Linked DNA regions of Homo sapiens. The protein of the gene in region 1 purifies or fractionates together with the protein of each later gene. This does not show direct contact. Each region holds a gene or a part of one and is shown on either strand. Other genes may lie near its edges.

Region 1 (3,823 bases):
AAACCTCAACTAACACAACTGTTTATGTAAAATAAATACTCATATTTTATGTATACGAACGCTTTACCCAGAACTTTAGCTTAGCTTTTTTTTTTTTTTGAGATTGAGTCTTGCTGTCGCCCAGGCTGGAGTGCTGTGGCACGATCTCGGCTCACTGCAACCTCCACCTCCCAGATCGCTGGGACTACAGGCGCGTGCCACCACGCCTGGCTAATTTTTTGTATTTTTAGGGGAGACAGGGTTTCACCGGGTTAGCCAGGATAGTCCCAATCTCCTGACCTCGTGATCCGCCCATCTCGGCCTCCCAAAGTGCTGGGATTACAGGCGTGAGCCACTGCGCCCGGTCTAGGTTAGCTTTTTTTAAAAAGTTATGCTATTTAAATTTCTACTATCAATTCAAACTAATTTTGAATTGGTTAGATGTGTTTCTTGAAGTTTTATGTTAATAATAATAAACTTCTTGTTTCAAATGGAAATATTTTAAAAAGAAACTGTTCTTAAATAAGGCTCCATGGGTCCCATAAGAACTTCAGTGAACTACAAACCCCTCTAATTATATGTAAAAGTGTGTGTGTGTGTGATTTTTCTAGGGATACAGAGCTTTTATCAAATTCTCATAGTTCAAGGACCTCAAGAAGAAAATTTCTCGTTAAAGGGATGATTATACATAGGCATATGTAAACAGGGTATTTTTTTTTTTTTTTGGTCAATTGTTTTCATTGAAAACACAATATATGTACCAAGTTCAAAATTCAAACAGTGTGAAAGAGGGCACTATGAAGAGCCACCCTACCATCAACCTGTCATTAACTCCCCTCCACAGAGAATACTAATAAATCTTTCCAGAAATATTCTATGCATAAATAGCATTACTGCAAATATAAACATATAGCTATGTTTTGGTAGATATTAAGTAAATTTTAGAAAGCAATATAAGCATTGTTCAGGTGAACAAAACCACACTGGAACGGGGTTTCACTGATGAAACAGAACCCTCAAAGTCTCAAAAATACTTTTGTTATTTAATGGTATAGACCAGGGTATAGTCCAAAAATATTTTCTTAAATACCCATATAGTAAATATCTTAGGCTTGTGGGGTATATGGTTTGTGTCATACTTATTCAGCTCAGCCACTCTAGCTTAAAAGCAGCCATAGATCATATAAAACACATGGGCATACTTACTTCCAATAAAACTTTTTTGGGGAAAAGAAAAAAAAAGCAGCTATAGTTCACTGACCCCCAGAACAATCTATAAATGTAGTTTAAACTGACACCCTACTGTAAATTGGTGATACATCATTATGAAATACTTTATTTCTTAATAAATAAATAATATACTCTTGTTTTTGACTCACTTTCTGCCATTTCAGAATCCAGCATTTTAAAACAGCTGTTGTCTAAATACACATGGATCCCATAGGTTTTACTCTATTTTTAAATAAGTGGGCATACCACAGCAACCTTCTTTCCCACCACCAAATCATTCAAAAAGGTATCTTTTACCTGTAGGCCAAGAAAGCTACTGGCCTCTGATGCCCATGTTCATCAGTCATAGAACCGACACTTGGAGGTTCAACAATAACATCATAAATTATTCCTATAAGAAAGACAACAGAACAGATTAGATTGTATTACTAATTTTTGAAAACAGGATTATAGTTTTCATTGTCTCTTAAGGTTCATTTACTTTTTTTGAGACAGAGTCTCACTCTGTCGCCCAGGTTGAGAGTGCAGTGGCGCCACTTGGCTTACTGCCAAACTCCGCCACCCAAGTTGAAGCAATTCTCCTGCCTCAGCCTCCCAAGTAGCTGGGACTACAGGCGCCCACCACCATGCCCAGCTAATTTTTGTATTTTTAGTAGAGACGGGATTTCACCATATTGGTCAGGCTGGTCTCGAACTCCTGACCTCAGGTGATCCACCTGCCTCAGTCTCCCAAAGTGCTGGGATTACAGGTGTGAGCCACTGCACCCGGCCAAGTTTCATTTACTTTTAAATAGGAATGCTTTGATTGTATTATTATAACCAAATGTGGCCCAACTCATCTAAAGTTCTGATAAATCATTCAGACATTCAACTCAATGTTTTAGAATTACTTTGAAAACTGTATGATATCTAAATGAAGTACAAATTTCATAAAGGAAATTCATCCAATAAGAGTTGCTAATACTCAGGAATGACTTTAGTATAAAGGGGATTTAAAACTAAAGGCTCTACTTCGGTTCACAAAAATTGTCTCAGATATGCTTAGATTTGTTTCTATAAATTGAAAAATAACTAGAGAAATTGCTTAAATGTAAAACAAGGAGACATTTTAAAACCACGCCATCAGGCAGAATGGCAATACTAGAGATTCATAATCATTAACATTAATGTCCACCATTATGTCATAATGTCATCGTGATCATTAACATTAATGTTCATCAGCACTAATAGTTTTCTCAATCTCCCACTGTCAACATCTACTCTACCTTCTCCACTGTTCTCAAACATCTTCATCTCCAGCTTTTCTTAAGCATAACAAGCCTATCTCCCTTATCCTAGCCTGACAAAACAATCCTATAGGAATTCCCTTGTCTTTTCCCCACCAAATCTACAAATACCTGGTACCTGCATCCATCCTCACCTCCTTCTTTCCAGCTACAAAGAGGAAGATTCCCACCTCCTATAATGTGGGATCCCTTTTGCAATTACCAGGAGTCCATTCCCACTTGGACTCTCAGGGACTTTATTCCTTTGGATATCTCTCCTCTCTCCTGTATTTTCAAGCTCTCCTTCCCTACATCAACCCTCCTTGACTTCAGATCCTCTTAGCTAACATCCTATTTCTATCTTTGCTTTCTGAAAGGGAGTCAGACTTTCTTCTGGAAGACTTAGGCAAACTTGCCATCTCCCCTTTCTTACTTACCCTTCATTCTTCAACTCAATCCAATCTGGCTTCTGCAACCATTGATACTGCTCTTTCTAAGGTCACCAATGATCTCCATGTTGTCAAATTCAATAGACACTTTTCAGTTCTCATCTTAGGGGACTTCTCAGAAGCACTCAATCCAGTTTACTAAACCAATTTCTTGAAAAACACCTCTTCTTATGGCTTTTGTGATACTCCTCTTCATGTTTTCTTGCTACCTCTCTATTGGGCCTCTTCTTTTATAAAAGAACTAAATGTTGGAGGCCCTCAGGGATTGGTCCACTGTCCTCTTCTACTTTTCTCCAAAATGAACTCCCAGGGCTTTCAATTTCATGTGCTAAAGACTCTCAATGTGATGTGCCAAGGCCTCTCAAATAATGCCAGTACCATTAGAATTACATGTAAGCTCCTCAAGAACAGAGACTTTGGACTTTGCCTATACTCTTCAATGTCTCATGGGAGTTCCAGAAATGTCTGTTAGTTGACCAACTTCAACACAGGCCTCTTTTCTCAGGTCTAGACTCCCATCTGCACATGTGACATATCCAACTAATTTTACCCCAAAACAACCTCTGGTGCACCATTTTCCACCAAAAACTTTGTTTTCTCAATCTCAGGAAATGATACTTCCATCTATTCAGGAGCTCAAACCAGAAACCTGTAAGATTCCTTCCCACTTCATTCTTCCCCTACACCCAGTGAATTCAAGACCTACTGAATCTACTTCCAACATATCTTTCATTATATTATCCTAATCTCCACTACCATAAACCTTGTATAGTCTAAGTCAACTACAAAGGCCACCTAATTGGTCTTTTGGTCTCACATTTGCCCTACGTTTCCCTCTGCCTAGCATATCCTTTCCCCGAACTCTTCAGATTTTGGCTTACATATCATTTCCTCAGGAAT
Region 2 (3,823 bases), on another chromosome or scaffold:
CTTTTAGGGGCTTAAAGCCCTAAAATATCTTTAAAAGATATTTTTAAAGTATGTACAGATTAGAAGTGTTTATATTAGAAAAGGAGGCCAAAATATTACATAATTAATTGGAAAGTGAACATAGTGCTGCCCTATATTTTGGGGTACTCAGAGTACAGTAGCTCATCTTGGGTGCTATTGTTTTCTCTCTACTCTCCCCACTTCTCACACATCCCTCCAGTGGTTTAACGTGGTCTCTCTTGCTTTAAAAATATTTTCTAAACTATATTCCATCATAATGATAGCCAATTAGTTATTAAATAATGTACAATGATGATAATGAATTCTGTTAAGCCGTTTACCAGAAACATCCCAGGCTATGGAGTGGATTTTAAGCATTGCCAGGAGGCAGCCAGACTGAAGCGAGGCTGCTCCCTGGAAGAGCCACTCAGCCAGCTTCCAGCCAAAGCAGCACAATCGTTCCTTTCCTTACAGGGTCTTAAAAAGCAAGACAGGATCTTTTGTTTTGTTTTGTTTTGTTTTAAGAATAATATCTTCAGAGCAGTTTTACATTTACAGAATTAATGCAAAGAAAGTACAGAGAGTTCTCGCATACCCCAGCCAGTTTCCTCTATTATTAATCCCTTGCGTTGGTGTGGTACATCTATCACAGTTACTGAACCAGTGTAGATACATCAGTAACTAGAGTTCATACTTTATTCAGATTTCCATAGTTTTCCCTAACGTCCTTTTTCTGTTCCAGGATCCCACCCAGCATATCGCATTACATTTAGTAGTCATGTGTCTTTAGGTTCCTCTTGGCTGTGGTAGTTTCTCAGAATTTCCTTAGTTTCGATGGCCTTCATAGTTTTGAGAATGACTGGTCAGGTATTTTGTAGATGATCCCTCATGATATTAGAATGGGGTAATATATTCTTGAGAGGAAGACCATAGAGGTAAAGTGCCATTCTCATCACATAATTAAAGGGTACCTGTTGGCATATATCTATCAGTATGTATAGGGAAGCTGGGCATAGTGGTCACTCTTGTAATCCTAGCTACTTGGGAGGCTGAGGCGGGAGGATCACTTGAGCTGGAGGCTGTAGTGCACAATGATTGTACCTGTAAATAGCCACTGTAGTCCAACCTGCGTGACATAGCAAGACTCCGTCTGTAAAAATAAAAAGAAGCAAGTATCAAATATAAGGGTATTATCAATTTGATTTTTCCCTATTGAAGTTAACTTTGATGACCTGGCTTAAGATATTGTTTGTCAGGTTTCTACTTTTCTTTTCCCTTTACTGGAAGGAAGTCACTGTGCATAGCCACACTTAAGATTTCTACCCCCTCAGAGTGGAGGCTCAGCATAAATTATTTGAATTTCTGCTTGGGAGATTTGTCCTTTCTCCCTCATCTGTTTATTTATCCAAGCATTTATTTATATCATTATTGGCCCAGATATTTACGTGATACTTCACTTTATAATCCAATACTACTGCTTTTTAAAATTTGTTGCTCAGATTGTTCCAGTTTTGACCATTAGAAGCTCCTTCTTTTAGTTTCCCTCTTGGGCTGCTGCTGCTTTTTTTTTTTTTTTTTTTTTTTCCTTCCCCAGATGGGGTCTTACTCTGTCACCTAGGCTGGAGTGCAGCGGCATGATCTCAGCTCACTGCAACCTCCACCTCCTGGGATGCAAGCAACGCTCCCACCTCAGCCTCTTGAATAACTTGGACTACAGGCATGTTCCATCACGCCTGGCTAATTTTTTGTACTTTTGATAGAGACAGGGTTTCGCTATGTTGCTCAGGCTGGTCTTGAACTCCTGAGCTTGGGCGGTCCACCTGCCTTGGCCTCCAAGGTGCTGGGATTACAGGTGTGAGCCACCGCGCCTGGCCTCCTGTGTTTAACATATATACTGTTGTTGTCATTGTGGGGTCTTTTTGTTTGTTTTTAAGCATTTCCTTTCTGGCACTACAAGATGCTTCAAGTTCATCTTGTATATTTCATGCCCTTGTCCTAGAATCAGCCTTTTCTCCAAGGACCAGGGCCATTTTTAATCTAATTTGAAAATTACATTCTCGATTGGGACTATTAAGTTTGAAGTAGAGAAAAATTGAACATTGACTAACTGCTGTTCATTGCATGATCATGAAGAATAGATCTTTGTCATCCTAGCACTTGTATTGCCAATTTATGAAGTAAAACAAATCATGTTAAAAAAAGAAAAAGAACAGGCAGTAAGCTCACATGCAAAGTAATTTTGAAGTTAATGAATAAATGCTTTGACTGGATGTGTGAACTTAAGCAAGTCCTATACCCTCTCTGACATCTATAGAATGAAGGGATTGGATTAGATAATCTCTGGGGCATCATCTCTTATTTTGTGATATTAGTTGTATAATTTTAGCTATTTGGTCAGTCCAGTGCAAAGTTGTGCTCAGTGTGCCCAAATTTCAGTAACAGATTTATTTTACTTTTGAAATATTTCACTAACACTGAGTAAATACATTTCAGCCCCATATTTCTACATTCCACAGCTTTTTATGAGTAGTTCATGAAAATGGCATACAACTTTACTGATAGTTCTGCAAACCTTCACAGTAGTGCTATAAGACAAAGTGTTTTTATTTCTCTTTTGCTCTTAAGTTGGAAAAGTTAAGGGATTAGCCTCTGGGTCAGTTCAGTATTAAAACAGGGCAACTCTCTAGGGTGCTAAATTTAACTGAACTATTAAGAGAATTATAATGTCTGCTATTTGGAGATGGCTGCCTATTCTTTTACAAAGTTGTGTTCAATTGCCTAATACCTTTGTATTTATAATAAGTGTATTATCTTACTATAGTATTTTGAAATAATATTCAAAATATTTTTTGGCAAACAACATCCTCATTTTATATGTGCTAATTCTATTTGGTTTTAAAACTGTTTTCGTATTATTAATAGAAAAGATAGTGTTCATAACTGTAAATACTTGCTTTCTCTATTAAACAGAAACCATTTCTCCACCGAAGGAGGAGAGTCCGAAAGCGCAAACACCACAATAGCAGTGTAGTCACAGAAACTATTTCTGAGACCACTGAAGTGTTAGATGAACCTTTTGAAGATTCTGACTCCGAGAGGCCAATGCCAAGATTAGAACCCACGTTTGAGATCGATGAAGAAGAGGAGGAAGAGGATGAAAATGAACTTTTCCCTAGAGAATACTTCCGTCGTTTGTCTTCGCAGGATGTACTCAGGTGTCAGTCCTCTTCTAAGAGGAAGTCTAAAGATGAAGAAGAAGATGAAGAGTCAGATGATGCTGATGGTATGTTTTACAGAACTCACTTACTGTGGTTTATTGTCTTCAGATATATAGCAGTAGCAGTGACAGACCCTTCAGTAAAAAGGCTGAAAAATGAACACAACCCACTAAGCAAGAAAAGGAACGTTTGGCAATCTCTAAAAAGTTGTATCAAGTATATCCATCTTGATTTTTAAATGTGTTTTCCCTTCAACTCAGAACCTCTATTAATTTGCCTCTGCAGAAAATATCTTACTATTAGGCAACTGTTCTTTTTTGCCCAATCCTTTCTAAGCCTTTATCAGAATCTTTAGTTAATGGGAGAGTTGGACTTAGCATCAGGAAGATGTAATAACCCTTCACTAGAATGTGCATTCTCTAGACTTAGTCTGTTTTGCTCATTGCTGTATGCTGAGTGCTTAAGCCCGGCGCTCAGTAAGTAGTGTTAAATGAGTGAATGCTAAGAAGACAATTCTCCAGAAAGAGCAGATTCATGTAAATTGGAACTTGTGTCACATCTGTTCAGGAGTCTTTCCTGAATTGTATCTCTAATGTGTCTTACCC

What was found.
Region 2: the proteins of OSTC (region 1) and KAT6A purify together in Homo sapiens (affinity purification with mass spectrometry, with the first as the bait; one large-scale study listed by BioGRID). This does not show direct contact.

What each region holds. Positions count from the first base shown.
Region 1 is NC_000004.12:108,653,341-108,657,163, reverse strand, and holds part of OSTC (oligosaccharyltransferase complex subunit OSTC), read right to left. Parts: intron 1,601-3,823; coding exon 1,507-1,600; intron 1-1,506. UniProt on the Homo sapiens protein: Subunit of STT3A-containing oligosaccharyl transferase (OST-A) complex that catalyzes the initial transfer of a defined glycan (Glc(3)Man(9)GlcNAc(2) in eukaryotes) from the lipid carrier dolichol-pyrophosphate to an asparagine residue within an Asn-X-Ser/Thr consensus motif in nascent polypeptide chains, the first step in protein N-glycosylation.
Region 2 is NC_000008.11:41,936,716-41,940,538, reverse strand, and holds part of KAT6A (histone acetyltransferase KAT6A), read left to right. Parts: intron 1-2,970; coding exon 2,971-3,283; intron 3,284-3,823. UniProt on the Homo sapiens protein: Histone acetyltransferase that acetylates lysine residues in histone H3 and histone H4 (in vitro). Component of the MOZ/MORF complex which has a histone H3 acetyltransferase activity. May act as a transcriptional coactivator for RUNX1 and RUNX2.